4 linked regions of the Homo sapiens genome follow. The protein of the gene in region 1 interacts with the protein of each later gene in a pairwise test. Each region holds a gene or a part of one and is shown on either strand. Other genes may lie near its edges.

What was found.
Region 2: the proteins of USP40 (region 1) and HEBP2 interact in a two-hybrid assay, tested with the Homo sapiens proteins (one study listed by BioGRID).
Region 3: the proteins of USP40 (region 1) and OCLN interact in a two-hybrid assay, tested with the Homo sapiens proteins (one study listed by BioGRID).
Region 4: the proteins of USP40 (region 1) and ALDOB interact in a two-hybrid assay, tested with the Homo sapiens proteins (one study listed by BioGRID).

Annotation. Positions count from the first base shown.
Region 1 is NC_000002.12:233,474,451-233,480,409, forward strand, and holds the end of USP40 (ubiquitin carboxyl-terminal hydrolase 40), read right to left. Parts: exon of another isoform or gene 5,673-5,959; intron 3,054-5,672; coding exon 2,942-3,053; 3' UTR 1,076-2,941; downstream 1-1,075. UniProt on the Homo sapiens protein: May be catalytically inactive.
Region 2 is NC_000006.12:138,399,176-138,407,695, reverse strand, and holds the start of HEBP2 (heme-binding protein 2), read right to left. Parts: upstream 3,474-8,520; 5' UTR 3,201-3,473; coding exon 3,099-3,200; intron 2,552-3,098; coding exon 2,416-2,551; intron 1,726-2,415; coding exon 1,545-1,725; intron 1-1,544. UniProt on the Homo sapiens protein: Can promote mitochondrial permeability transition and facilitate necrotic cell death under different types of stress conditions.
Region 3 is NC_000005.10:69,543,945-69,552,146, forward strand, and holds part of OCLN (occludin), read left to right. Parts: intron 1-959; coding exon 960-1,175; intron 1,176-3,985; coding exon 3,986-4,157; intron 4,158-7,599; coding exon 7,600-7,641; intron 7,642-8,202. UniProt on the Homo sapiens protein: May play a role in the formation and regulation of the tight junction (TJ) paracellular permeability barrier.
Region 4 is NC_000009.12:101,432,209-101,441,292, forward strand, and holds the start of ALDOB (fructose-bisphosphate aldolase B), read right to left. Parts: upstream 3,567-9,084; 5' UTR 3,501-3,566; intron 1-3,500. UniProt on the Homo sapiens protein: Catalyzes the aldol cleavage of fructose 1,6-biphosphate to form two triosephosphates dihydroxyacetone phosphate and D-glyceraldehyde 3-phosphate in glycolysis as well as the reverse stereospecific aldol addition reaction in gluconeogenesis.

The sequences.
Region 1 (5,959 bases):
GGTGTGAGCTCATTGGTGGTCTCTTGTTTCCTGAGCCGGGAGATTGCCGTGTCTGCTCCTGCCACCCCAAGTCGGGGCAAGGACCTGCAGATGAAGGGCCCTGTCTGCCACACTCTGCAGCCATTGCCACAGGGACCTGGACGCATGGCAGCACGTGGGCGTGTGTGGTGGGAGTGGGGGAGGGCAGCGGCCAGAGGGAGCTGGAAGCAGTCTCTCTTTACTTGGATACTGAGGTCACCGCTTCACCCAGAATGCGTTTGTTATGGATTTTATTGAACCCTGGTATGGCCATGCTTTGGGTGGGTGCGTTATCCAGAACAGAACAGAATGATGGACCTGTAGGGTGAAGGGGCTGTTGTAAGTTGGTCCCTCACTGTTAAGTCTGTTCTGCAGGTTAAACTCACATCGATGGCGCCAAAATGATTTGCAAGGGAATTCTTGCCCCTCCCTTTTTTGGCTAGAAAAAGTCACTGTTGAATAAGTATGTTTTCTGTGACGACACCACCATTACGTATTTCCATAGAAGGAAAATAAAACCAGATTGATTACATCCAGTTTCTTCCAGTGCATTTTTCCCATGAGTCTGAACTTTTTAAAACCAAAGCAAACTTGTTATTTCTAAAGCAGCACTGCTGCAGTATTTCTAAATATAAACTGTTTATTTAGCATCTGAAGCAGGCTTGGGAAAAAGGGCCACAAACGTTCCTTATTTTATTTATGTATTTTTTTTGAGACGGAGTCTCGCTCTGTCACCCAGGCTGGAGTGCAGTGGCACGATCTTGGCGCACTGCAACCTCTGCTTCCTGGGTTCAGACGATTCTCCTGCCTCAGCCTCCCGAGTGGCTGGGACTACAGGCGCCCGCCACCATGCCCAGATAATTTTTTGTACTTTTAGGAGAGACAGGGTTTCACCATGTCAGCCAGGCTGGTTTTACACTCCTGACCTCAAATGATCCACCCGCCTTGGCCTCCCAAAGTGCTGGGATTACAGGCGTGAGCCACCGCGCCCGGCCAAAAGTTCCTCTCTTAAGCAAGCTGGGCACGAAGTAGCCGGCAACCAAAAGCAGCTAAGGGCTACAACTTTAAAAAATGGTTTATTTTTTTCTTTAACAAAATCGTACAGCTTTCTCAATCCCCAAATTAAAAAAACAGAAAACAGGAAGAAAGGGAAGAAGGCAAAGGCCACACGCACAGGCCGGCCCGGCCGCACGCGCCTGCTGGACGGCACTTCAGGGCACAACCCACACGCGTCTTTGGACTTGCAGACATTCCGCGAGGCTTCTGGCCTCTCGAAGGCAAAGCTTTTCAGCGATTTCATTAATATTTCATTACGCTGAGATGAGATGAAGGCAGATGCTACAGAAATATGTCAGTTAAAGCCACAGAAACAGAACAGCTTAAGAAGGGCTGGGCGCCCAGCTCGTCACGACACTTACAGCTCTGGCGTCATCAGAAGCCTCTATCATCTCCCTCTGCAAAGACGCAGTCTACACCCAGTGCGAGTCTCCTGAGCGGGGTTAGTGTTTGGGAGTGGGAGGCAGCTGCTAGTCAGAGTTGGGTCCTTAGGGCGCAGTGCTTCACGGAAACGCACAGACGTCTATGGCAGACGCTCTCAGACACGTGTGCAGAAGCGACGTGGCTTCTGTCTGGTAGGGGTTTGGACTGTTGGGAGGAGTATGAGGGACAAAGCAGGCCGCTGGCTCAGCATCAGCTTGTTGGAAAAGGGTCACAGGCAGGGGAGCGCCTGACTCCAGCGGTGTCCTTTCTGCCCTCACACTTCAGTGCTGCTTCCCATCAGTGACGGGGCTGACGAGAAACCGTGAGGCCCAGGTGACAAGCAGGCTCAGGACATGCGACACCGTCTTCGGGATGCTGCTTTCCGCTAAGCTGCTGTCTGGGAAAGTCAACCGTCTATGTCCCAAATCAATCAACTCAGTGACACAGGTACTATTATTTCTCACAAATGCCAATTAAATCCTTTAAGTTGAATAGAAATCTGGGTTGGATTAAGTGGGAAAACCCTTCCTTAGTTTACATTTTCTTTTTCTCAGGTGTTTTCATTGAGGCTACTCAGGAAACCGGTCAGGCTGCCCAGGACACCTGGAACCTGGGCTATGCCAGGCCTGTCTGCCACAGCCCTGCCTGCCCCGCTTCCACACAGGAAGAGAGGCTGAGGCGCTGTGGACGGCAGCAGCTGCAGTCCTCGGGATCCAAGGACCTTCTGATCACAGAGCACCCAGGATAAGCTGGACCCTTGGCCTGCGGGCTGACGTGCAGCGGCTGCCCTTGCTTAGCAGAGCGACTCACCCTCGGAGGCCACCCTGTGTGGCTCCTCCTCGTGGAAAGAGCTCGCACTTTTCAGCATCGCAGTTTTAACTCAGACCAAAGGGCAGACGTGGAGCATGCGGGGCCGGAACGAGTGGGGGAAATGAAGTCCTGAAAGCAGACCCCACTTCTGCCCGCTTCTGCTCAGCACCAGCGCGGTGGCGCAGTGGCCTGAGACACTGTGAGAAGCCGGTCAGGGCGAACGAGAGTCATCTGAACACGGAGGAAAGTGGCTGGCCTGACCCCACACACCTCCCACAGCGGAGCAACGGCATGCCGCTGCCTCCATACCTGCGGTTCACGCACACGTTGTGCATTTTCTGGTTAAAAGAAAAAAAAAGGCAGCTGGGGCCGGGTGCTGTGTGAGAGAGCCCAGCACCTACTGGCAGCTGGGTGGGCGACATCCAGAGCTGCACCAGCCCCCGTGGCTGCCACGTGTTGCAGAGCTAAGTGACTACATGCACTGGCCAGGCCTCAGAGGAGCCGTCCCTGTGCTCAAAGGAAGCAGAGGATTTGGGATTGGAGGCGCCAGGCAGCCAGTCCCCATGCCCAGGAAACCCACGTTTGTGGCATCAGCCGGAGAGTTCATCGGGAGTAGAGCCGTGCAGCGGCGCGGTTATCTGAAGCTCCCCACGTGGATGGAGAGAGAAGTTTCCGGGGCTCGGGGCCGGGCAGGCGTCTCTGCACTGGAGAGGATGTAGCTGCTCTGCTCATGGAGGGCTTCTTGGCTGCAGAGACACAGACACTGTCATTGACTCATGGATGCAGTGGGTGTCAGGGTGAGGGGTTCACGAAGACCCCAAAATACACTCCAATTTTATAGGCCACAAGGACGTGCATTTGCAATTGCACAGACAGATCTCAGCCACCTGCCAGAGGGCCCCATTTTGCCCTGCCACCAGCCCTGTGCCAGGCCAGCTGCCTTCCCCTGCTTTGCACTGGCAGCACGGCATGGTTCAGGCTCTGGGGCTTTCTCAATCTGCTCAGTGAAAATGCCTCACAGCTGAGAAACCTTCCTTTCCGTACTTTTTAAACGGAAGAATAACATCCGGAGTGCACACACACCGCTGCACGACTCGTCACAATCACGCACACCTGTGTGACATGATGCAGAGGCTGCCTCTGCCCCTTCAGTCTTGCCCGGAGAGACAGGCCACTTGGCATCCCACTCAAGAGACTGGCTTTCGCTGTGACCCCCCCGGCCCATGGCACCGTGCGGCAGGTGCTCTGCGGCCGGGTGCTTTGGCCCAGCCTGATGTGTGTGGCCCACCCACGCTGCACAGTCCCCGACAGAAAGCCTCCGCGGCCCACCCGCCATCCCACTGCTGAGCAGCCTTTCCTTCAATACGGCCAGAATCTGGCCATGGTGAATGAAGCTGCCTTGTAATTTTGGGGATATCCTGGTAGGCACGCGTCCATGTTTTTGAGGAGTAGAAGGCTGGGTACCGGGAAGTGCCCAGCAGATGCAGCAGGAGGTACTGTCCTGAGTTCCAAAGTGTCTGTGCCAATTCCACACCCACACACAGGGGATGAGAGCCCCAGTGACTCTGCGTCCTCAACACACGAGTCTTTCCCACTTTAGTGTTGCCAATAGGCATGTGGCACTGTCTCGGAGTAGCTTGAATTTACACCTCTTTTATCATGAGTGAATGGCTGAGCATATTTTTATATGCTGGCAAGCGATTTGCAGTTCCTTTTCTATGAACTGTTCATACCCTTTACCTACATTTTTATTGGATTGGTTGTCTTTTTCTTATTTGCAGATAATGTTTACAGCCATACCCTCTGACCTAGCAATTCCATTGCAGAAATCTGTCCTACAGATATATCCACATCTGTACTGCAAAATGGTGAATATACAAGGTTATTCACTGTGATGGTGACAGATTGGCGACAGCCTGGAAGTGTGTGAGGTGGGCATAAGTCACCTAAGCTGTGGTCTACCCATGCATCAGGACACCACGCTCCCACCATGAGACGGGGCAGCTGAGTACACACTGGTACATGAAAACAGCAAGGTTACCAAGAAAGTTCTGGTCAAAAGAGAAAGGAAAGCTTCTCTGCCCCTATACACAGGTCTCTGAAAGGACATGCAGGTGACGGTCACGCTGGCCCATCTAGGAGAGGCTGTGTACCTGGGGAGGGAGGTGCAGAGATTTCTCAGTGAACCTCTTTGGTGGCTTTTGAAAGCACGTGACACTATTAACTCCAAAAAAAAATGAAAAACAATATAGTAAGTGGTTACATCACGGTGTTCAGAAGACACCAGTGGTCTACTGTTGTGCAAACAGCACGTGTGAGGCTTAAGATGAGGTTTTCAGTGACAGCACCATGAATTTTTAAAATGTGCTATCTCAAACAGCACAGATGACAATGGAGCTCCCAGGGCCTGGGGAACTATTGGATGTCTCCAAATAACAGCCCTGGTGACAACTAAGGCTTTGACAGAGAGGATGCTTGGAGAAGTCTGATGAAGTCAGTGGCATCACATTTAAATGTGGAAACAGAGCCAGGCGCGGTGGCTCACGCCTGTAATCCCAGTACTTTGGGAGGCCAAGGCGGGCTGATCACAAGGTCAAGAGATTGAGACCATCCTGGCCAACATGGTGAAACCTCGTCTCTACTAAAAATACAAAAATTAGCTGGGCATAGTGGTGCACGCCTGTAGTACCAGCTACTTGGGAGACTGAGGCAGGAGAATCGCTTGAACCCGGGAGGCGGAGGTTGAAGTGGGTTGAGATCGTGCCACTGCACTCCAGCCTGGCGACAAGGTGGGACTCCGTCGCAAAAAAAAAAAAAAATTTGGAAAACAGTATTTTAGTGTCTATGTATTAGACACGTATAGAATTTTACGTGTGTGTGTGTGTGTGTGTGTGTGTGTGTGTCTGACCTTTAAACAGGAAAACCCCCGAAGCAGCCAGCGCTGCAGCCCCTCTCCCATATCCCAGGTCTCTGAGGGCACCAGGACCTGAGGGCTGCAGAGCTGCGAATGGGGGTGAGGCCAGGCACAGGTCCTTTGCTATCCTGGGGCTCCCGGGGCCCTTAGGGAGTCAGCAAAGGCCACGGGACAGTGCTGTCCGGAAAGCAGCCCAGACCCCGGAGAGCAGAGAGGAAGGGGCCCTGGCCCAGGGGCCGTGCTGCTTGCGGAGCTCACACAGTCCCTACCCACCTCCATCTTCACTCAGGGAGTCTCCTCGCTCGGCTCCCTGATTCTACTTCTACCTCCTAGAATCCACTCACCACAAAGCAGCCAGTGATCATGTCAACGCGTCCCCCTTCACACCCTCCAGCAGCCTCTAACCACGCTCGAACCCCCACTTCTGCCATGGTCACGAGGTCACGCTCACCTGCCCTGCCACCTCCACCTGGGACCTCTCTTCCCCAGACGCCCCCAGTGGCAGAGGGCATGCAGTCCCTGGCACACGGGCAGCCAAGATACTGAGGGGCAGAAGAAGGGGATTAGGGTGAGCGGGGCCAGATCAGGCTCCTACAGTCATTTGGGCAGGGAAAGATGAAATCCACCAGGGCAGAAGCAGTCAGAATAGGACAAAAGGCAGATTTAGGAGAGACCCAGAGTCCGTGAGTCGGGGAGTGGGGGAGGATGAGGACGCCTGGGGGCCTCTGGTGAGGCCTG
Region 2 (8,520 bases), on another chromosome or scaffold:
GCCACAGTGAGACCAAGCTACTGCAGTGAGTCCCCAATAGGGAAATGGCTAACAGAGCCATGGGAGCCGGGCACACCAGACTGGGAGGGCCACCGGTGTGCAATTCGAGCCTGGTAGAGCTGCAGGGTGGGGTCCCTCCAACTGTGAGAGCTGCAGTGGGGTTGGGCCATCCAAAGCCATGGCCAGGGCCACTTGAAGCCTTGGGGGCCCAACCTCTGTTCAGCAGAGCTTCACAAGTGGGACCTTCATCCCAGTGGGCCCAGAGGGAAGAGCTTTGAGTCAAAGAAAATTAATCTGAAGATTTAGAACTTACTTGGAACCTGTTACCCATTTCTTTTTTCCCATTTCTTCCTTTGGAATGCAGTATTTATCCTATGTCTGTCCCACCATTGTATTTTGGAAGCATATAATATGTTTGATTTCACAGGTTCATAGATGGAGGGGAATCGGCCGCAGGATGAACTGTACCTTGAGCCTCAGATTTGATTTTGATGATCTTTAGATGAATTTAGGCTTTTGCTGGAATGAATTAAGACTTTTGAGGCTATTGGGATAGAATGAATGTATTCTGCATGTGAGATGATATGAATTTTACAGGATCAGGGCAGAATGCTATGAACTCTATGTTTGTGTCTCCCCAAAATTCATATATACATTTTTCTTTTTGTTGAGACAGGGTCTCAGTCACCCAGGCTGGAGTGCATTGGTGCAATTACGGCTCACTGCAGCCTCGACCTCCTGGGCCCAAGTGATCCTCCTACCTCAGCCTCCCAAGTAGCTGGGACCACAGGCATGTGCCACCAGGCCTGGCTAATATATATATATACATTTGGTAGAGATGGGGCCTTGCCATGTTGCCCAGGCTGGTCTCTAACTCCCAGGCTCAAGTGATCCACCTGCCTCAGCCTCCCAAAGTGCTGGGCCTCAAAATTCATATTTTGAAAACCTAATCACTAATGTGATAGTATTAGGAGATGAGGCCTTTGGAAAGTGATTAGGTCATGAGGGTAGAGCCTTGTAAAACATGTCCAATAAAGCTGCCTTGCCTCTTCCACCACATGAGGGCATTTCTGAGAAGGTTCCATCTATGAACCAGGAAACGGGCCCTCACCAGTCACTGAAACTGCCAGCACCTTAAACTTGAACTTCCTTGTCTCCAGAAATGTGAGAGAGAAATTTCTGTTTTTCATAAACTACCCAGCCTACGGTATTTTGTTACAACAGCCTGAACAAACTAAGACTTCTGTTTTAAGGTATTTTTGTTCAGGTCTAACTATATTGCAGTCTTTTGTTTTGGGAGCATATAATTTGCACCGTGTCTTATATGAAGGGCATGCAATAGACTCATTAAATGAAGTGATTATTATCTTGTGACAGACCTCAGTAACATATACAACAAAGCCAGTAGGAAAACATCACAAAATGCATTAGACCTGATTTTATGGAAGGGTGAAAAAGCCTTTTGAAATTGCATTGGAGCTAAACTGTGAGTGCACGCAAGTAAAACTAGCAGTCAGCAAGGCTATAAATTATCTACCACTTACCGTACAAACACAGTCATTTCGGCTCTATCTTCAATGAAGACATCTGACTCTAAAGGCCTGGGTGGATCAAATTGCTGTTCAGAGGGAATATACAGGGAAATGGTAATGGTAGACTCACTAAAAGGACCTGAACCAGGCTCCACGTAGCTTGTCACTGGAGCTGTCATCTTTATTTTCATCTCTGTGACATAAAAATGAAAGCAAATTTAGTGTATTTTTGACAGCTTTAAACATTTAACCTATTCTTTTTTGATCTGGGTTCCTTGATTTACTTCACATTGTTGACATATTTACCTTTAAGATAATTTTCATCTTAAAACAGTAAGGCCAAAATTACTCAATTGCTCACTGCCCACATTAAACCACTTTCTGTAATACTGATATTCTGGGTTAATAAATTCTTAATTTTTAGAGATAAAAGGGGAAATTAGAGATTACATGGTCAGTAAATTATTTTTTCTTACCATTCAGAAAATGAGGTCCCACAGGCTAAGAGACCTGCTAAAATATAAATAGCAGCAAAGCCAGACCAAAAGCTATGACTTGATGCTTCTAATCTTGGTACCTTCTTGCCTCCTGACGTCTCTGATCCTACCAGTCACCAAATTATCTTGAGGTGTTAGCCATAGAAAAGGACTTATCACGAGTTACACCAAACCCCAGTTCATCCAGCAAAATCAGAGAACAGAGGTTGAAAAGTAATACCCAGTGTAACCCTGGTCCTGAGGAGTCTTGTCTGAAAACAAGACAAGTCTTTGATGACTTGCTTATTTTTCCATTATAAAGGATATTTCTTTAATAAGCTAAAACTCAATAATAAGCCCGGGGACTCTTTCACAATATGCATAATTACAAGGAAAACTGCTTTTACCTTTCTCGTTTTTGCCTTGAATGTAGCTGTTCAGTTTCGTAAAGCCCGTCTGGATGGCTGAATCCCAGTCCATAGACTCCACGGACGTGCTGACCCACTTGGCTGGTCCATAGTGTCGGATCTCATAACTTCCGGGCTAAAGTGGAACAGAGAAAACTTCGAGAAGCAATTCTAAGAGGGTAGGAGTGAGATGCAAAAATACCGGTGCCATGATCTCGGGTCGACCTGGAGCCGTCCTGTCTAGGGGCTGCACCGCCCCGGGGTCCGGCCTGAGGTCCCCGCTCCTTAGGTCTGGGAGGTTCCCCTCCACGAGGTTCCCCTCCTTGCGATTAGGGACCGCAGCGGCCCCAACCCCACACGCTGGGGACTCGATTCACACTTTCAGACAAGCATCTATTACACCCCCTCGGTTCGGAGGGTTCCACCGCGCGTTCTGGGACGTAACCAGTTCCTCCCCGCCCCACCACCCCGCAAAGACAAGAAATTGAGATGGGACCTGCACTGGGGGTAGCGGGGAGGGTAGAGCTAAATGACCGGGGTTTCTCGTTTGCGTAGCATAGTGGGTAGGGACTGGGACCATTTAAAAAACTGTACTTTTTACTTAACTCTATGGGACCCGCTGGCCTCACTGCAAATCAGCCGGAAGGCGGGCCCAGCCCCTCCGCTCCCGAGTCGGCGCCTACCTGGGGGCCGGCGTCCTCCGGGGCCTTCCAGCCCGGCGTCTCCACAGCTTGGGCCGCCGCGTCCTCGGCCGCCCCGGGGTCTGGCTGGAGCGGCTCGGCCATGGGCGGCGCTGACGCTCTGGGAGCCTGGTCAGCCGCGCAGAGGCCCCGCACCCCGGGCCGCCCCGCCTGCGTGTGCGCGCCCCGCCGAGGCCCCGAGTCCCCGCTCCGCAGACCCGGTCCCTCCTCCCGGCCGGGCTGGAGACCCGAGCCCACCCGATGCGTCTGCCTCTGGACCGCGAGGGGGCGCCGCCACCAAGGCGGGGCCGGCTCACGACCCCGGACAGCTCCGGCCGGAGTTGCGCGTCCTGCCCCCGCCCCTCCGCGGCGACAGGGAGCCGCACCTCGCTTCGGCCCGCCTTCTTTTGAGGCACTTCCGCCCCCGCCCCGCCTTTGTTTTTGAAGGAAAGGCACACACAGGTGGCCCCGCGGGCAGTAGGGGGTGGCGCTGTTTCTGTGCAACCGGTTTGGGAACCTCTGCCGCGGCCCCGCCCGCGCTGGGAACCGCGGGCGCTGAGCCGCCTCGAGGGTGTCCCAGCGCACCGCAGGCAGAGAAAGGCAGGAGGTGGCGGCTGGCGACCCGACCCCCGCGGCCCCTGCCCGCACTCCTGGGGCTCAGCCAGGGCGAATGGCCGTACTCATCCCAAGAAGTTGTCCTAGGTCCCAGACAGCTTTCAGGGTCCCTTGCGGAGGAGGTGGTGGGACCACAGACACATGGAGAGAATCTGGAACTGTTCTGGTTTCTGAACTTTTCCCCGACAGGACCCCAGACCCTCTGAGTCATCCCCGCAGGCTTAACGAGACTCGGGGAGAGTTAGTGCCGAGGCCAGACACTAGTGCTTTTCAAGAATTTTGGTTACCAGGGCTTTCCCGAGCCGAGTGGGGTGCGGCTCTGTTCCCCAGCACCCCCTTTCCGCCGGCCAGGCCGACTCCGCGTTACTGTCCCCTGCGGCGGGGACCCGGCACGGCTCCGGCGCCCCCCAGAGGACTCCCATCGTGGGCAGCCAGAGCTCCGAGGCTCTCCGGGGCGACGTGACCGCCGCAGAGGCAGCAGGCACTCCCCACGCGAAAGCCAACGGACAGGAGGGTGGCCACGTGAAAAGCAATGGTGACATCCCCCAAGGGTGAAGGGGAGTAGGCCCCTGTGAACAGAAGAGGCAGCCGGGACCATTGGCAATGCCATGGAGCCAGCACCCCCTAGCCAGGGTGCTGAGGCCAAAGGGGAGGCTCCCTCCCTCGCAAGGAGACTTCCAAGAAGACGAAATTGCCTTTCAAGGCCAGGCACGGTGGCTCACGCCTGTAATCCCTTCATTTTGGGAGGCCAAGACAGGGGTGATCGCTTGAGCCCAGGAGTTCGAGACCAGACTGGGCAACATGGCGAAAACCCGTCTCTACAAAAATACAATAAAATAGCGTTGATAGTAGAGTGGAGAGCATAGCTGCCTTCCAAAAAAAAAAAAAAAAAAAAAAAAGCTGAGTGTGCTGGGGTTGTGATCTCAGCTACTCGGGAGGCTGAGGTGGGAGGATCGGCTTGAGCCTGGGGAGGTCGAAGCTGCAGTGAGCCGAGATTGCGCCACTGCACTCTAGCTTGGGTAACAGAGTGATACCCTGTCTAAAATAAATAAATAAATAAATAAATAAATAAATAAATAAATAAATAAATAATTATCTTTCAAGAAGGGTTTCTAAGAGCAGCTTGTCCTTCAAGAGAAATGGGAAGGAGGGTGGGGTGACTCTTCTGCCTCCTCACCTATGGAGGAAGAACAGGAGTGGGGGAAGATCAATGCCTGCAGCGACAAGGGCGCTGCCCAGGAAGGGAAGGCTGTTGCCACCCCTGAGAGCCAGGAGCCCCAGGCCAAGGGCGCAGAGGCAGTACTGCCTCAGAAGAAGAGGCAGGGCCCCAAGCTACAGAGCTGTCCACTCCCTCGGGGCGGAGAGTGGCCCTACACCAGCCCACGCTGAGCAGAATGAGTAGCTGGGTGGGCCAGGTGGGTGATCTCTAAGCTGCAAAAACTGCTGTTCTTGTGAGGTTACTGCCTGGACCTGGTGCCCTGGCTGCCCTCCTGTGCCCAGAAAGGAAGGGGCTATTGCATCCTACCAGCTACATTCCCTTTCCTTCTCTCCCTCCTGTGGATTCTCCAATCGGCCATGTGGCTTTCCTCGTAAGGCCAGTTGAAGACGGTCCCCCACAGCCTCCCAAGTTAGATTAGTGATATGAAATGTGCCTTTCCCTGGCCCTGCCTCCTTCCCTGTCCCCAGCCCTGCAGAAGGCAATTTTTGGTTTTCTTCCCCAATTCTTTTCCAAGTAGGTTTTGTTTACCCTACTCCCCAAATCCCTGAGCCAGAAGTTGGGTGCTTAAACTCCCAAACCTCGAGGGTCCGGCCTCCCCGCTGTTGAGTTTTTACTCTGGTGCTGTGCCTAGTGGCACCTGGGCCGGGCAGGGGGGCACTGCCCTGCCTAGGGTTCTATTCAAGTTCCAACCTTCAGCTTGTGAATCAACTGTGTCTCTTTTTTGACTCGGTAAGCACATGTTAGGCTTTGGGGCCAGGGAGAGGTCTGTAATGTGAAATAACTTCTTCTTGCCTTTTCTTCTCTCATTTTTATGAATAACTTTTAATGGCCAAACCCCAGATTTGTATTCTTTTTTTTTCTAACTGCTACAACCATTCTCTTCCACCTGGTTTTATTATAACAATTGGAAAAGGAATAAATATCCCTTAAATTTTTTTTTGTTAGATGTATTCTTTATTTTTTCCAAGAGATTTATTAAGATATAATTCATATACCATATAGTTCACCCATTTAAAGTGTACTAGTCAATGGTTTTTAGGATCTTTAGATCTGGGCAACCATCATCACAAGGACTGGGCAACCATCATCACAAGGTGAGAACATTTTCATCACTTCCCACCCTTAAAGAAACTCTATAACCTTTAGCCACCACCTCCCAATTCCCCATTCCCTATGCCTAGACAACTACTAATTTGTTCTCTGTCTCTATAGTTTTGTCTATTTGGAACATTTCATATGAATGGACTCATAATAGTACGTGGTCCTTTGTGACTGGTTTCTTTAACTTGGCAAAGTGTTTTCGAGGTTCATCTGTGTTGTGGCAGGTACTCCATTTCTTTTTATAGCTGATTAATAGTCCATTGGATAAACATTTTATCAACTTATCAGATGAGGGACATTTGGGCCATTTTCAACTTTTGGCTATTATAAATAAAGCTGCTCTACATGTTTATGTACATGTTTCTGTGTGCATGTATGTTTTCATGTCTCTTGGGTAAACATCTAGGAGTAGAAGTTCTGGGTCAAATGGTAACTCTATGTTTAACTTTCTGAGAAACTGCCAGACTGTTTTTTCGCCACTTCACATTCTCACTAACAAGGTGTGAGCATTCTATTTCTCCACATCCCCATCAACACGTGTTTTTATCTGGCTTTTGGATTATAATCATCCTAGTGGGTGTATGCTATGGTTTGAATGTTCATCTCTTCAGAAACTCATGTTGAAACTGAATCCCCAATAGGGCAGTATTGAAAGATGGGGCCTTAAGAGGTGATTGAGTGATGAGGGCTCTGAAATTAATCCATTCATGGGTTAATGGGTTAATGGATTATTGGGTTAGCACGAGAATGGGACTTGTGGTTTTATAAGAGGAAGAAGAGAGACCTGTGCTAGCACACTGAGCCCCGTCACCATGTAATGCTCTGTGCTGTCACGGAACTCTGAAGAGAGTCCCCACCAGCAGGAAGGCCCTCACCAGATGTGGCCCCTTGACCTTGAACTTCCCAACCTCCATAACCATAGGAAATAAATTCTTTTTATTTATAAATTACCCAGATTCAGATTTTCTGTTATCAGCAATAGAAAATAGACTAAAACAGTGCACCTGGTGCTTTAAAATATTTTTTGAGATATGATTCACATAGCATCAGTCACTATTTTAAAGTGTACAATTCAGTGGTTTTTAGTATATTCACTGTGTTGTACAAACATCATGACTACTATCTAATTCTAATTATAGAACATTCCGTCAGTCCAAACAGAAACTCCATGTAGCTTAGCAGTCACTCTTCATCTCCCTTGCCCCAACCCCTTGCAGCCACTAACCTACTTTCTGTCTCTATGGATTTGCCTCTTCTGGATATTTCGTACAAATGGAATCATGTATTATAATATGTGATATTTAGGCCAGGTGTTGTCACTCACGCCTGTAATTCCAGCACTTTGGGAGGCCGAGGAGGGCGGATCACCCGAGGTTGGGAGTTCGAGACCAGCCTGACCAACATGGAGAAACCCCATCTCTACTAAAAATACAAAATTAGCCAGGTGTGGTGGCGGACGCCTGTAGTCCCAGTTACTTGGGAGGCTGAAGCAGGAGAATCGCTTGAACCCGGGAGGCAGAGATTGCAGTGAGCCAAGATCCCGCCATTGCACTCCAGCCTGGGCAACAGGAGTGAAACTCTGTCTCAAAACAAACAAACAAACCAACAAAAGTAATATGCGATATTTTGTGACTGGCTGCTTGCTCTTAGTGTAATGTTTTCATCTATGTTGTAGCATGTACCAGTACTTAATTTTTTTTTAATTGCCAGAAATACCCCATTGTATGGGCCTAGTGCTTCTAAAGCAATTGATGTCTTCTCTTTTCCTTGCCCTTTCCTGCCCCAACAACTGTGCAGTGGCCTGAGGACTCATGGCACTTTCTAGTGGTTCTGTCAGATCTATTATTATGCAGAACTAAGTTCGATTTACTTAGTAAAGGCTAAATAATGAATTTTTAACTTATTTTAAAAAATAGCTTGTTTCGTTTAACTAGGTAACAGATGTGATCCATTGCTTAGGTGACTTTGCAAAGTTGAAAATATAACTTTATCACAGGTTTTTTTTAAAAAAAGAAAAAGGATGTAATTTACTTCATTGCTTAAGAAATCTGTTATTTTAATCTATAGAGTATCTTTTACATTTATCAATGTCTTTTTTGGAGGGCAATATTTTATTTGCAGAAAATCTAAGGCTAAATTTGGAGACGTTTATTTTTCAGGGTTTGGAGTATGCAATTAGTGAAGGTAACAGAGGTGACTACACTGCATTATCTGTATTTACAAGGCAGTAACTAGTCATATAAAAGAACAGAGGAAGGAAAGAAAGGGATTTATTTCAAAATAATAGGATTTCAGTTTAGAACAAGTTTAATAAAGTTTAGTAAAGTTTAATAAACTTTAAATTATTTAAATTATTTAAAGTTAATAAACTTCATTCAAGTTTTATATTGTTATTTCAAAATAATCGAGTTAGTTTGTTTTCTTGTTGATTAATTATAGTAATTTTTTATTTGCTTATATTTCATCAATGTTTATATGACACTATGAAGC
Region 3 (8,202 bases), on another chromosome or scaffold:
ATGTGGATCACCTAGAAAAGGGACTAAACCTGGAAGAGCTCAGTATGATAGTTTATGTAAATTGGCAGCAAAAAGAAACGCTTCAGACATTTTAAATAGTTGATTGGAATGGCAAGGCTGATGCTTGGAAAGTCTTAGGCCCATTCTTTGGTGTTTTCATTTCTGTTCTTGCCCTTTTCTACAAGAAAATGAAACTTCGTATTTCTTTTACTCAGAAGTAGTTCCCACTTTCAACTTTGGTATTTTATTCCTCAGTTAGGGTTATTTTCATGTTTGTGTCCGAAACATGCAATTGTGATGCAACTTTAAATAATTGTATTAGAAGAAAATAGTAAGTGTGTAATGGTAACCCTTCTATTCATTCTACGTGGCTTCAGGATTAACAGCAATTTTAAAAAGAATCCTAAAGGAACTCTTTAATTTATTGCAATGTAAAGCTTTTTACTTTTTTAGTTTAGATATTTAGTTTATTTTGCAAGATTTTATCTTAATATGATAATTGATATATGGTAGTATAAGATCAATATTACAAAGAGCATGTGTGCATTCTTCCCCATGCAGCATTCCAGGGAACTAGAAGAGCCTGTAGAAAAGAATGATCACTGTTTTCCTGACAGCCTTTGTAGAGTAAGTCCCTGGCACAGGTCAAGTAAACACCTCTTATAGATCAGCCTGAACTTTTTAAAATGAAATCTGAGATCCATTGTACTTAGAAGGTATAAAAATGGCTACTCCCCTTTAAATTGGAACCTACTACTTGTGTGTATTAGAGGACTCTGAACTGCTGTCAAATTGAATGCAGAAAACGAGGCATCTGCTCAGTGTTGAACATCTGAAGTCCTCGCGTGAGTGCACCTGCGTGCAGATGTCTGCTGGTGTTTATTATGGCTGTGCTCTGTGATTACAGTGCACTGGCAAAGGGCTGTAGTGTACTGAACAATGATGCCTGTTTTTATTAGGGTTCCTGAAGTGGTTCAGGAGCTTCCATTAACTTCGCCTGTGGATGACTTCAGGCAGCCTCGTTACAGCAGCGGTGGTAACTTTGAGACACCTTCAAAAAGAGCACCTGCAAAGGGAAGAGCAGGAAGGTCAAAGAGAACAGAGCAAGATCACTATGAGACAGACTACACAACTGGCGGCGAGTCCTGTGATGAGCTGGAGGAGGACTGGATCAGGTACCGACTCAGCTCTCCTTTCCTGGCCCACGTGCTCCTTCTGATAATTAAAGGAGACCAACCAGGTGTTGGAGTTATTGCCTCCCAAATTGAGGTCACTGGTGTAATTTCATTCTTTGCCAACCAGGACTGGAGACAGTTTTTTGTGTGGTGTTGGCTGGTTTTTTCCTTAGCACCCTTTTGTGACAAAGTTTGAAGTGGAGAGAATGTTTGGCAGTAACCATGTCTTTGAACTTTGGCAGTAACCACTTTGAACTTTCCACAGTGTGGCTGGTGAACTTCACCAGTGCTCTTTCTTATACCAATAGTCACGGAAGAAAGATGTCCTAGCACTTTGGGAGGCTAAGGCTAAGAGTTCAAGACCAGCCAGGCATAGTGGTGTGGGCCTGTAGTTCCAGCTACTCGGGAGGCTGAGGCTGAGGCAGGAGGATTGCTTAAGCCCAGGAGTTCAAGGCTGCAGTGAGCTATAATTGCATCATTGCACCCCAGGCTGGGTGATAGAGCTAGACCCTATCTCAAAAAACAACCAAAGGCCTTTCAAATAAATAAAATCCAGGTATAGAAGAACTTTGTTTTACTAATTATAAAATTCCCAAACCAGTGCTATGGTTTTCCTTTGGCATTACTTTTTTTTTTTGAGACGGAGTCTTGCTCTGTCGCCCAGGCTGGAGTGCAATGGCACGATCTCGGCTCGGTGCAACCTCTGCCTTCCGGGTTCAAGCAATTCCTGCCTCAGCCTACCAAGTAGCTGGGATTACAGGCGCCCACCACCATGCCCGGCTAATTATTGTATTTTTAGTAGAGACGGGTTTCACCATGTTGGCCAGGCTGATCTTGAAAATCCTGACCTCAGATGATCTCCCTGCCTCGGCCTCCCAAAGTGCTGGGATTACAGGAGTGAGCCACCGCGCCTGGCCGGCAATTATTTTTTAAATTAAGCTTAAAATGATAAGACGAGAGTTTCTTTTAAAGTTTAATCCAAAGAGTTCCGTAAACAATTGAGGTAACAATTTAGTGTTCAGCCACAGTTGTGGTTAAGTTTCTTTGTGTTTTGGTGGTTTTGTTACAATCCATCCACCATCACCAAATGTATTTGTGTATGATGTGTAGCCTTCCTATGCCCAAGTATTCTGAGGACTAAGACGCACATCAGAAACATTTGCAATGTGAATGGTAATCAAAACATCGCTTCTCAGAGAGTGAGGAATGATAGGCGGGGCATGGGTAGCTTGAGATCCCCTATTCACTGATGATTCTGATACTTTATCTTCCCCTCTCCCCTCAAGAGTTTTTGGCCTGGCTTAGCCATCTATCTGTAAAATATTCACCTAACTTGTATCACGGAAGATTTAACTGAAAACTTTATATATTTTTTTGAGATAGAGTCTCACTCTGTTGCCCAGGCTGGAGTGCAGTGGCACGATCTTGGCTCACTGCAACCTCCGCCTCCCAGGTTCAAGCAATCCTCCTGCCTCAGCCTCCCGAAGAGCTGGGATTACAGGCATGCGCCACCACACCCGGCTAATTTTTGTAGTTTTAATAGAGACAGGGTTTCACCATGTTGGCTGGGCTGGTCTCAAACTCCTGACCTCAGGTGATCCACCCACCTCGGCCTCCCAAAGTGCTGGGATTACAGGGGTGAGCTACCATGCCCAGCCTGAAAATTTTCAAAATCTGAAATTCTTGTTTCCCTTTTGATCAAATCATTTAAATTTCTCCCCTCTGTAAAATGAAGATGTTAGATTGTTAGATCTAAAATTTGAAATTCCACATCATTGTGAAACTCCAGTCCTGTGAAAGGATTCAGAGTATTTTCTCTATGGATTATGGGTTAATGGCATCGTCTTCCTATGTAAGGAGTGGCTGGTATATTGAGAAATAGATGTGATACAAAATTTCAGTTTTTCTTCTTTATACTTTAATGAATTGCCAGATTATTTTAACAGTGAGCACATGTTTTTATACATGTACATTTTTAATGTCTATTTTTATTGTGAAAGAAGTAGATAAGCTATTTCCACTTCGGAAAAACAAGAGCAAAAAAATAAATAAACCAGTCTGAAAACTATGGGTGGTAGCAGGAAACAGCCACTTCCAGTCAGCTGTGCTGCCACTGTGGTGATCAAAGCGGACTTTGTGTTCCAGAATTCCAGTTTTAAGACTTTAAACAGGCCAGGCATGGTGGCTCACTCCTGTAATCCCAGCACTTTGGGAGGCTGAGGCAGGTGGATCACCTGAGGTCAGGAGTTTGAGACTAGCCTGGCCAACATGGTGAAACCCTGTCTCTACTAAAATACAAAAATTAGCCGGGCGTGGTGGCAGGCACCTGTAATCCCAGCTACTGTGGAGACTGAGGCACGAAAATCGCTTGAACCCGGGAGGTGGAGGTTGCAGTGAGCCGAGATTGTGCCACTGCACTCCATCCTGGGTGACAGAGCAGGCTTTGTCTCAAAAAAAAAAAAAAAAGAAAAGAAAAACTTTATAAACATAAGTAGTCCATTATTGATATTGTGTATGGGAAATAAGTGAGTTCCTATGACTTGTACCTTCAATTTTGTAAATGATTTTCAAAATTATTTCTGCAAATTACGTAGGCATAGTTTTTATTTTTTAAAAAATGAGCAGTAATATATAGTCACTCTTAATAGAACTTATTTGTATTCTCTCTCTCTTTCCCCATAAGAAACAAAAACGAAACAAGAAAATGTCATTCTCCATACCCAACCAGCTTTATTATCTTTGAGGAAGGAGCATTGAATTTTATGTCTGCTAAGGATACATATGTAGTCATTTTCTCTCTCACCTTTTAGGGAATATCCACCTATCACTTCAGATCAACAAAGACAACTGTACAAGAGGAATTTTGACACTGGCCTACAGGAATACAAGAGCTTACAATCAGAACTTGATGAGATCAATAAAGAACTCTCCCGTTTGGATAAAGAATTGGATGACTATAGAGAAGAAAGTGAAGAGTACATGGTAAATTCAACCTGATATTTATATATTAAACAGAATTTGAATCTAATCTGTGGAGGTACAGCATCCTTTATATTAATGTTGATAAAAATGTGCTAGTAGTTATCAAACTGCAGTTTCATTGAAGAATAGTTGAGATTGGGTTTTGGATGAAATTCTTTCCTAATAGAAGATTGTACTAATGTATAATAGTTAATAATTACAAAGCACTATTCTGTTTTTTTTTTTTTTTTGAGGTGGAGTCTCGTTCTGTTGCCCAGGCTGGAGTGCAGTGGCGTGATCTCAGCTCACTGCAAGCTCTGCCTCCCGGGTTCACGCCATTCTCCTGACTCAGCCTCCCAAGTAGCTGGGATTACAGGTGCCTGCCACCACGCCCGGCTAATTTTTTGTATTTTTTTTTTTTAGTAGAGACGGGGTTTCACCATGTTAGCCAGGATGGTCTCGATCTCCTGACCTCGTGATCTGCCCGTCTTAGCCTCCCAAAGTGCTGGGATTACAGGCGTGAGCCACCGCGCCCAGCCCCTACAAAGCACTATTCTATGTACATCTATCCTTTCCTATTTAAAATAAAATAGCCAGGCTGGGCATGGTGGCTCATGGCTATAATCCCCACACTTTGGGAGGCCAAGGCAAGTGGATCACCTGAGGTCAGGAGTTAGAGAATAGCGTGCCTAACATGGTGAAACCCCATCTCTACTAAAAATACAAAAAATAGCAGGGCATGGTGGCAGACACCTGTAATCCCAGCTACTCGGGGAGGCTGAGACAGGAGAATTGCTTGAACCTGGGATGGGGGAGGTTGCAGTGAGCCAAGATTGCGCCATTGCACTCCAGCCTGGGCGACAGAGTGAGACTCCATCTCAAAAATTAATAATAATAATAATAAAATAGCCTTATTATCTTTCCTATTTATAAAGCCATTCATTCTTTCTGTAGAAAAGAACTTAAGCGGCCGGGCACGGTGGCTAATGCCTGTAATCCCAGCACTTTGGGAGGCCGAGGTGGGCGGATCATGAGGTCAGGAGATCGAGACCATCCTGGCTAACACAGTGAAACCCCGTCTCTACTAAAAAAAAAAAAAAAATACAAAAAATTAGCCAGGTATGGTGGCGGGTACTTGTAGTCTCAGCTACTTGGGAGGCTGAGGCAGGAGAATGGTGTGAACCCAGGAGGCGGAGCTTGCAGTGAGCCAAGATCGCGCCACTGCACTCCAGCCTGAGTGACAGAGTGAGACTCCATCTCAAAAAAAAAAAAAAAAAAAAAAAGAACTTAAGTAACACAGAACTGTATACAGAAAAAGAAATCATCTTAAATCCTACCATCAAGAAATCCTTATCACCAAAATATTAGTTAAAACAATCTCTCCAAGCAGGAGTCACCAAGGCACATACACCTTTCTTTAAGGAAACATCATCTTCCATGTTTCACTTATTTTCTTCCTGTCTTTTAAATCAACAGTTTATGGGTTTTTTTTTTCCCTCCCTTGATCACCTGGCTGAGATAGAATTTGTCCATGTAAAGTTACTGGATTTTTTTTTCAATCCATCCTTTTCATACTGTATTTTGTATACATACTGAAATTAATGTAGTTACACCACCTTTTAGAGGGAGATTAATCTCTTCTTGTTTATTTGTTCCTTTATTGATCAGTCAATCACTTACGTAAGTATGGACTTTACAGATACCTGTTTTATACTGTGAATTATAATCCAAGGCTGCTTTATTTTGTAGCTCTAATTGTTCTCGCTTTGACGGTTGGGAACTTTCAGTTGCTTCCCGTGTCCCTTTGACATACTCTTATTGTGGGGTTTTATCTTTAAAAAAAAAACAAACAAAAAAACTTCCTTGCACTGCTTATTTCTGGCTTTTCTTAACAGCAAGTTTTTTTTTTTATATCAATAATAAAGACCTACTTACTTTTAAGTTTTTTATGTGTAAAATTAGGTAAACAACTTTCAAATTTATGGTTGTATCATAATTTAAGAGTCATTTTCTATGGATAGACATTTAAGTATGTCTCCCCCTACTCCAGTAGTACCAGTATATACTGGTGAACCTCTCTGTTTTTGCACTCTTGTCTACTTATCTAATTTTTTTTTTTTTTTTTTTTTGAGACGGAGTCTTGCTCTGTCGCCCAGGCTGGAGTGCAGTGGCGCTATCTTGGCTCACTGCAACCTTCGCCTCCTAGGTTCAAGTGATTCTCCCGCCTCAGCCTCCCGAGTAGCTGGGATTACAGGCATGTGGCACCACACCTGACTAATTTTTGTATTTTTAGTAGAGACGGGGTTTTGCCATGTTGGTCAGGCTAGCCTCGAACTCCTGACCTCAGGTGATCTGCCTGCCTTGGCCTCCCAAAGTGCTGGAATTACGTGTGTGAGCCACAGTGCCCAGCCTGCTTATCTAACTAAAACTAATTCCAGAATGTGAAATTGCTGAGAGTCAGAGGGTACGTACCTTTGCAAAGTTGCAAAATTGCCCTCCAGAGAGACTGCACCAACTGTGTCTCCCTCTTGATACAATACAGGACTCATTTGATGCACATCTCATTAAATATTCTGCCATTTTTCAGTTGAGGTGATCTACTTTTTAGTTTTGACGTATTCACATCTTTATATAGTTAGATTTATGTATTTCTTTTATGGTTTCTATAGGGTGTTATAGATCTTTCTTAATTTAGTGAACATTTATTGATCACTTATTTTTCTTTGATGATGTGGAAATGCTGGAGCTAGAGACATAAAATCTTGTCCCCACCCTAAAAGAGCTTATATTTTAAGAAAAAAAACCTGACATCTAAACAATTTAGACAGTATGATTAATGCTGTATTTGCATCATGTGTAGAAAGCACTATAACTAACTGCTCATAGAAGAAATAAAGTCTTTGGAGGCTTCACAGTGAGGGAATCGTTAAGAGCTTTCCAGACAGAAGGGTGCGGGGAGGTGCATGATTACAGCCATAAGGAAAACATGATTGAAATCCTGAAGCATTTAACATGTCTCAGTTTTTAAAGGAGTTGCTGATGATGGGTACTGAGACTGGAAAGGTAGGAAACTGGATGAGGGGAGAAGTTAATGGGAAGCTCAGACCAGTTGTGTAGTGGGATATTACCTGATCAGCGAGCGCTCTGTGTTATAAAAGATCTTCCTGGTGTCAATGTAGCATGGGGACTGGCATGAGGAGAGATGAGAAGTAGCAGAACAGATAGTTACCTGCCTATGTGAGTGAAATGTGAAAGATACAGTATCATAAATGTCTCTTCACTGAATTCCTTCAGACCTTCCTGCTGATCATGAGTTTTAAGAGCTTTACGACTTCATTCTTTTAATTGCTTATATTTTTGTCATAAGCTGTCATTTTTAGCTCCAAAGTATAACATCAGGAATGTTACTTTTAAAAGAGAAAATGCCCCAGTAAACATATTCCTTTGTGTCTGTCGTTAATAGGCTGCTGCTGATGAATACAATAGACTGAAGCAAGTGAAGGGAGTAAGTATCCGAGATTGTTCTTTTAGGAAGAACTTTCTTTCTTCTTCTTTTTATTTTAATTCCCATACCTACTCATCTGGAGGAAGAGCTTTTCTATTACATGTTTTTCATTTTTTATTTTATATATTTTTTAAAAGTTGAAGTATACATACAGAAAAGTGTATAAATCAAAGTGTATAACATGGTGAATTTTCACAATGTGACCACATACCTGCGTATGCAGATCAAGAAATATATTTCCCAGTACCTCCCCACCCCCAGCACCCCCACCCTCACTTGTACTACTTTCCAGTGTTTACACTCTCTCCAGAGGGGTCCATCATGCTCACTTCTAACATCATAGAGTTTTGTCTATCTTGCACATTACATAAATGGAACCACACAGTATGTATTTTGTGTGTGATTTCTTTTGCTCAGTATAGTGTTTGTAAGGGTCCATTTGTAGTTCATTACTATTATTTTTTTTAGACGGAGTCTTGCTCTGTTGCCCAGGATGGAGTGCAGTGGCGCAGTCTCAGCTCACTGCAACTTCCGCCTCCCAGGTTCAAGCAATTCTCCTGC
Region 4 (9,084 bases), on another chromosome or scaffold:
CTCTCCATTTCAACAGAGGTTCTTGTCTTACCCCAAAAGAATGAAACTGCAATGCTGTTACTGGGGTAATAGGACAAGCTAGTGGGCAACAATTTCTAGAGAAGATGACCTTCTAAGGCCCATTATGTCCCAGCCACCAGCAGAGCATGTTTGCCCTGTTTATATATTAGCTGTAATATTGGAGTCAAAGACTTTTAGCTTTGGACCTGGCCTCCAGATCATCATGCTGAAAAAAGCCAACCTGGGTGTGATCTTCAGAGCAAGGTGCAAACTTTCTCTCTCAGTTTAGGCATTTGTACAAAGGAGTTGACAATTACCAAGAAAGAAAGATATTTTCTTAATGAAACAAAAGGGAAAATCAGCCCAATAATAATAATAACAACAAGTGATCATGTATTGTCAAGCACTCTGCTAATGGCTTTACATGCACTATATAATTTTTCTTGAAAATAATCCCAGAAGGTGGTTGGGCTCTTTTCCCCTCCCATTTAATAGATTAGGAAAGAATATAAGAGAGTGTAAATTATTTATCCAAGGACAAATAGCTAATAAGGCATCAAGTTGAGATAAGGGGCAGTACTCCTTTCCATTCAAGGGAAAGAGTGAGCTTGATGAAAAAAATGGCCTTTGGATGACTCCTAATGTCCTTGATGACACCCCAGAGTACCTTACGCTGTGGGTGATTACACCATGGACATTACTTATTCATAAACATCTGACACATTTATGTAGAGGTTTGCTGCTAGCAGATCAGACAGACCTAGTTTTAAGAACCAGCTCTGCCTAATCTAGCTGGAACCTCAGGCAAGTCAGGCAGCTTCCTGAGTCTCAGTTTACTATGGATTAAATGGTGATAATAACTGTTCTGGTTGTCTCTTTGCCAGGTAACTCAAATGCCATCTATGAGCACCCTGCTCATTGTAGTTGCTCAAAATATATTTGTTAAATTGCATGATAAACATGAAGATTCTTTACAAAGCACTATAAAATGCAATGTATTACTAATTCTCTTTTTTTAATGAAAAAAATCACCTAAGTGACCTCCATTTTTCTGTTTACTGCCTATTACTAAACTATTTTCTTCAATCTGGGTATGCTGACTCAACCAGAATAACAGTGAAAATGATAATTCAAACTAATACTGTTTACAGGGAGTTAAACTTCTACAGTGGGATTAAAGGTCTGTACCACGTTAGCACAAATGTCACCTCTCTGTTAATCATAAAACAGGGTCACAGGCCAATGTTCACCACAAGGAGACAGGAGGACAACCTGGGATGGGTAATGACAAAGAACGATTTCCGTACTCCTAAGCCTCTGCTCTCTCAGATCTCAAGCCAACTTTTTTCAGTGTGATGGAAGTTGTTCACATTATATTATTAAATGAAAAACAAGTTTCAGAGAAGTATGCAATATATACTGTCCTCCTATTTTTTAATTAAAAAATGATATATACCCATACTGTTTTTGTGTCTATATAAACAAAGAGTAACAACTCTGGAGTTACCTCTGAAGAATGGGGTAGGGTGGAGAGATTCTCACATTTCTTTTCTTTTTCTTTCTTTCTTTTTTATTTTCTGAGACAGAGTCTTGCTCTGTTGCCTAGCCTGGAGTGCACTGGCACAATCATGACTCACTGAAGCCTCGTCCTCCTGGGCTCAAGTGATCTTCCCACCTCAGACACCAAGCAGCTGAAACTACAGGCGCCTGCCACCATGCCCAGCTATTTTTTTTTTTATTTTTGGTATAAACAAAGTCTTGCTATGTTGCCCAGGCTTGTCTTGAACTCCTGAGTTCACGCGATCCTCCCACCTTGGCCTCGCAAAGTGCTGGGATTACAGGCATGAGCCACTGCACCCGGCCACATTTCATTTTATACATTCTTTATCACGCACTTTATTACATATGTGTAACAAGTAATATGTATATAAATCTGGAGGAAAGTTGTATTAACAACAGAAGGTAACCACAGAAAAACAGAGCTACAAATGACCTCAGAGATACCTGCGTCAACCCTGTCACTTTAGAGATGAGGAAACTAAAGCCAGAGAGACTATGTCTGATGTGCCTTCTAAGTTGTGATGTTCTAGGATTGCAAGTTACATCCTATTGGCTTATGACTTAGAATTCTATTTCTAATCCTTCAGCAAAATAGCAGGTAGAATCCTATGGTATGGTTCTTTCTGCCTTCCTTGAAGATGTTCTGTGAAAACATAATTATTTGTAACATGGATATTTAATTCCTGGAGAAATAGAAGGCAGCAGAAAGTTCATTTGCTTCTCTATGTACAAGACAAATGGATTTTTAAGGCAAATATGAGGAGGCTTATTTATTGATAGCCCATGATTTCTAGGCACTGCATGCAGCACTTTTGTACATGATGCTTAAAGCTGCCAATAGCTTCATTATCCACCCCAATGTCCCAGTGACAAGTGCAGTGGGATGATCTAGGGCAGTCCTAGGACAGCCTGATTTCCAGTGCCCTTTAACACACGCGGAGCAGCCCAGAACGAGTCCTGAATGGTGCTCTTTCCTCTAAACTTGGAATGAAGCCAAAGGACCTCTTAGATATTCAACATTTCCCCATTCCCTGCCCCAGTATCTCTGGCTCTAACCTGGGCCTGGGTGCTACCCAGATGTGCCTTAGCTAAAGTGATGAATAGCAGGGTAGCAGAGTTCAAGCTCTGGTGCATCCAAATTGTCTAATGGAGCCCTAGGTAACTATTTAAAGAGAAGTTATTTTTTAAAAAGGCAACATATTCTCACAATGCCTATTTTTCAGATAGTAGAGCAAATGTATCAAAATACACAACCTTTTGATTCCTACTATCTTAAGCTGTAGGGTCTTCACAGTGTCTGGGGCCAGCAGGAAATGTTCTAGAAAGTGTCAAACATGAAGGGTTTGGAAATTCATAATCAAATGATGACTATGCTCTGTGAAGTTTCCAACCCTGTTGCATTTCCTCATTTGAGCAGTGGGTGAAGGCGAAGGGCAAAATACTCCAAGGGTTTGTTTCTGTGACAAAGAAACTTCAGTGTCGGTACCAGTAGGTGTGGGAAGAGAATGTAGAAAATGACATAAGGCAGTAGATATGTAAATAAATCACTAAAATAAGTAGTTGTTATGAAAAGAGAGTTGAGAGTTGAAATGAACAGGAATCTCAAAAACTGATTAGAACCTAACGATAGGAGTGTTCAAGTTGTTTTTCCTAGATCAGAGACTCACAAGGGCCTCATTCAGGTAACACAAGTAACTGGCAATCAATCTTGGGCATTTTGCCACCTCTCAAAAAGTCAGGAAAGGTGTGAATGAGCATTTATACTTAGAGAGAGGAAAACAAGCATTTCCCTCCAAGCAGAGCCATCATGTTTTCAGCCACCATCAAGTTTTTCCCGAAAACAAAGGCAAACCAATCTTCCCTTCTATAAGCTTAGTAGTATTATTAACCCCTTATTCACTGGTGCTGTCCAGGTATACAAAGGAAGCTTTTTTACTTACAGTTTGGGAGAGAAGAGTCCTCCTAGATATCAAAAGCTGTGGGTGAGGCAGCAGCTGCCAAATAAGACAGATCTTTGGTAGCACACAATTTTTATAGACTTCTCATCATGTTTTTTTTTTCCAATATTTGCCCTCCCCTTTCTACCTTGACCTAGTAGGGAGGTGTTTATTCAACACCTCTGATTGGCTCATAAACAACCAGTCCTTAAAATCATGCCCATATACTCCTTATGCTCATAGAATGTTAAAGCTGCAAGGAATGTCTTTAGACCGTGGAGTTCCTAATCCAGACCCTCCATTTCACAGATGAGGAAACTAAGGCAAGGAAGATAAGGAGGTTCCCTTAAGTCATACAGCTAGTCAATGATGGAGCTCTAGGGTCCATTAAATGATACTAGGAAGAATGTTAGTGTAGCTGTAACACTTACAAAACACATGAACTTGGTGACGGGTTTTTGGTTTTGTTTTTTACTTGTCTGAGCCGTTATTTTCTTCTCTGTAAAGTGGGATCTCAATTTCACAGGAGCATTAAGTGAGTTGTATAGTGTCTGTACGCAGTAGGCATTCAAGAATTATTATTTCCAAATTAGGTAATCAATGCTATATTTTCATTATTTATCTTCAGTATATCATTAGTAGTCAATTCCAACAATTTATTCTATAATTTATAGTTAAATTTAAATAATCTTTCAATAAAAGAAATTGATTCTGAATCCTTGAATTTCCCATGTGTGAATTTTGTCCAAATTGGAAATAAAATTCAAAACATTCTGTTTTTAAAAATCATTGTCTCTCCCATCTTCTCCAGTCCTCCAAAACCTAGCTGGGCTTTCTGATGTATTTAATGCCAGAAATCATTGTTTTGTATTCCCATTCTCTTTTAACCTTTGTACTTTTGTCTTCAAATTTGGTTAAAAACTAGAATTAAAGTGATTGAACTAAGCCATCAACACCCCTAAATATGGTACTGTCTGGGTATGGGTTCATTCTGCAGGGCTTTTTCCTAAGTATGAAACCCAAATTTAATTCCAGAAAAGGTAAATAAAAATATTATATGCTTCCAGAGGCAAATGATGAATGAGGCAAATAAATGAGGGAAATCTAAAAGTGATGGAATGACCGTAATTACAAAAAAGGGTAAATTCTCATGAACATGTTCCTCTGGAATAATTCATAAAATGGAAAACAAAACTAAGATGCTTGATTGTGCAGAGTGTAACACCAGAATTTATGGATGAAAAGGTGAAATGTCAACAAAATGAAGGAAAAAATAAACGGAACTAGGTGATCTAAAAAGAGTTTTGGTTTAGTTTTGGTTGTTTTTCCTAGATCAGAGACTCACAAGGGCCTCATTCAGGTAACACAAGTAACTGGCAATCAATCTTGGGCATTTTGCCACCTCTCAAAAAGCCAGGAAAGGTGTGAATGAGCATTTATACTTAGAGAGAGGAAAACAAGCATTTCCCTCCAAGCAGAGCCATCATGTTTTCAGCCACCATCAAGTTTTTCCTGAAAACAAAGGCTTCTGAGAACAGTAAGTATTCATCACTGAATGTGAATATTGAAGGAAATTGAAGTATTTGAAACACAATATTGAGGCTCATTTGGCTAGGGAAGTTCCCACCAAGCCCTGTCCTGAGGATAGTAGAGGGATAGACCAGGGAAAGGTCCTATCAGCTCCCTTGACTCCACTTAGTATCTGATGGCACATTTCCTGGTTTCCCCATCTTCAACTGGGCTCATTGAAGCACCTGCTACCATATTTGTCAGACCAATGTGACCAGCTTTGGGGCTATGTGAGGTTTCATCCTCTATGATTTTTGGTAAAGGAGAATGGAGGAACAAGAGGTGGATGGTGATGAAAGAATAGAGAGTGGGTGTAATGAAAGTTGTTAGGAGTCAGGGCTGGGGTAGTCAGAACCATAGCTAAAACATTCTACCTGCTGAGAGATGCTACTAGTACTAATTATTCTTGTTATACAACAATAATAGCTATCCTTTTTTTGAGAGTCTATGATGTACCTGGTTCTTTTCATAAATTATCTCCAATATCAGCGACTCTCTGAAGAAACGCTTATTACCCCCATTTTATGCATAACAAAACTCTGGTTCAGAGAGGGCAAGTAACTTGTCTAGAGTCACAGTACAGGTAGCTGGAGAGTTTGTCTCATTCCAAGACAGTGATCTAAAGCAGAGCTGCTTACATTTTGGTAACTGCAGACTCATAAATTAGCTCTTTCCCTATTGCCTTCTCAGCAGTTTATAACCTTGGACATTAAACTTTCATTAATCAGGGAGGAATGACTTGCGTCAGCAGACGTAGGTGTCCTTGGTGAGCTGGGCATGGCTCCATGTGAACAACAGCCTGGCTAGGAATGTCAGAACAGCATGAGTACTCCTGCCCTGAGTGCTGCCACTTGCTGCTGTTCTTGTAGCATCAGCATTTGCCCACCTCTGGGGCTTGATGTGCAACTGAAACTCAAAGTTCAGGAAAACAAAGCTAAGGGCTTACTGGACCTTAGAGAAACAGCAACTCTTGACCAACATACACTGCTTGCAGGGTTTTTGTTTTTATTTTTATTTTTGTTAAGTCTCCTAACACAATACAATGTTCAAAATTGAGTATTATATGTGGAAACAGCATTGGACTTGGAGGCTGTGAAACACTGGGAAGTTCTTCAACCTTAGTCCACAGTTTCCCCATCTGTAAAATGAACTAGGAATGCCTCTATCAGAAATGTATTATGAAGCATGAATGAAATAATATATGAGTGGCACTTTGTACAGAATAGGTTTTCATTAAATAGCTAGATCTGAATGCATAACTGGTTTAGAGGCCTTTGATTGTAGGATCTTAAAATAGGCAATGTAACAACAATACTATTCATGATCGTTACAGTCAATACTTCTAACAACAGCCTCGCTTATTCTCTACTCCCTGCCCAACTCTAGATATTTCTTCTGGTTTGAATGTGATATCTATATAAGTCAATCCACAGGCCATGAGATAAATGTGTTATTAATGCATAACATGAGGTCTGAGTCATAAGCAAACTTCTACATGCAAATAAATCTCACATATTATAGAGTTACACTTACTGTAGAATTAGCAATATTATAGAGAAAGAACTTTCATAAAAAGAGACCACATTACACAATGCAACTGGAAGAATCACGATTGGCATTTTAAAATATATTTTCCAAACTGTGGTACAGATATTTCCTTATCATATTGCAATCTGCTTTGGTGGTTGGAATAGTTTCAGGACCCCAAAATCAGTAGTTATTACTTTGGTCTAGAGATAGAGCTATGTTTTCTCAGCATGGCTCTCAAAAGTGTTTTGCTGTTATGTGTATAAGGCATTTTGTTAGCTATGGAGACTTTTTAGAGGATACGAGGTGAGTAAGACTGGCCTATTCTCAAGAAACCTGCATTCTAAAAGGAAGAGAAGATTGAAGTTGAGAATCAAATAAAATCAAACCAAATACAAGAATGTACATAAAAACACCAAGAGATTGTTGTTGTTGTTGCTGCTGTTGTCACTGCAGCATTTATGGATGACTGTGTGAAGTAACATTAAAGAAAAGTCCTATGAAAAGCCCAAATATTCGAGATTTTTTACAAGGCCAAGTCAATTGATTCAATCTGTCAGACTGTAAGACCTAGGGGGGTAGGGGGTAGTAATGTCTTACCAATGTTTCCTCATTATCCAGCACTATGCCTAGACACCAATCAACTTTTGTGGAATAAATGAATCAATAGATATATGAGTATCAATATAGGTGTATATTAGTATCAATCTCAGAAAAGTCTAGAGTAACTGGCTTATAATTCTCATCCCAGAGAACTTTGAAATAAATAATAAGTAGAGTATGAACATTCCTTTCTTCTAAAACTATACTAGGTTCTGAAAACTCTTCTATCATTGCTCATTTGGAATTTCACAGGAATCCAGGCTGTAGTGCCTTGCAATGGTACACAAGAACCACAGCCTCCCTACTTTCAGTAAATTCTGGTACAACACACATAACACAAAATTTACCATCTTAGCCATTTTTAAGTGTTCAGATTAGTAGCATTAAGTGTATTCACATTGTTGGGCAACCAATCTTCAGAACTCTTTTCATCTTGCAAAATTAAAACTCTATACCATTAAACAACAACTCTCCATTCATCCTCCCCACCACCCCCTAGCAACCACCATTCTGCTTTCTGTCTCTATCAATTTGACTACACTATGTACCTCACGTAAGTGAAATCATAGAGTTGTTGTCTTTTTGTGTCTGGCTTATTTCACTTGGTACAATGTCCTCAAGTTTCATCCACATTGTAGTGTGTGTCAGAATTTCCTTCCTTTTTAAAGCTGAATAATATTCCATTGTATGCTGCATTTTGTTTATCCATTCGTCTGTTGATAGACACTCGGGTTGCTTCTACCTTTTGGCTATTGTGAATAATGCTGCTATGAACATGGGTGTACAAATATCTTTATTTAGACTCTGCTTTCAATTCTTTTACGGTTTTATTGAGATAGAATTCACATAGATACAATTCACCCACTTAAAATGTACACTCCAATGGTTTTTTTAGTCTGTTCATAGAATCAGAGTATTAGATGTCAGTTTGTGAGAGAGATGTGGTAGGTTTTTAAGATGCTCCAAATCTGACGGTATAAATAGTTTTAAAGCACCACCATGAAGTCCAGGAGCAACAGCCACTGGGGTGCAGCAGATATGAGAATGAAAGAGTCATGGGTCCCATTTCATTTCCTTGTGGTAATTTTTTTAGATGCTCTTCATCACTAAGAAATCTGAACTCTGTGTATTCTAGGAACACTAGAGTGCCTTGTATATTCAAGTATCCAGGGTAAGTAAATTCAATAGTATCCAAATTGTGGGGCTTAAAAATACCCCTTTGACTAAAGAGTAAAGCTGATGCTTGAAGTATGTTGAAGAACTGGAGGATTTCCTTGTCTGAGGAAATATGGACATGCAGTTAGGATGTTGCAGAGGCAGAGTGAACAGGAAATAATTTCACACTCAGTGACGAGTATTTAGCTGACAGGAAAGAGTTACACAGTGGTCTGAAGTGTCCACCAACCCCCATTTCTCCATATGTCTTTGAATTGGGTTGTTAACTGCCTTGTCAGTGTTTTCTCTTTGTCTTTTGCTCAATCATCTCAAAGTTCAGTTTTTCCCTATCTAATCAGGTTGTTAATTACCTAGGTCATTTATGACCCCCAGCACAGTATTTATTTCACTCTTCCTTATAACAACTTTTCAGAAACTCTTTCATAAAACTTTCATAAAACTCTTTGGCATTAAGGTGAGATGGCCTTTTGCTAGGGTGGAAAAATCTCTAGATAAGGAGGCATGAGGTATGTGGGTGCTGAGTCCAGTTCTGCTGTTGACTGGCCATGGAGCTGAACAAAGTCAGCTTTTCCCAGCCTCCCTTCTCTAACGTGTAAAGTGGCCTGATAATACCACTACTGCCTAATTTTACTGTGTTGTTGCGGTGATCAAACGATATCATGTAAATTAGTGCTCTGAAAACTACGAAGACCTACATAAGTGTAAAATATTA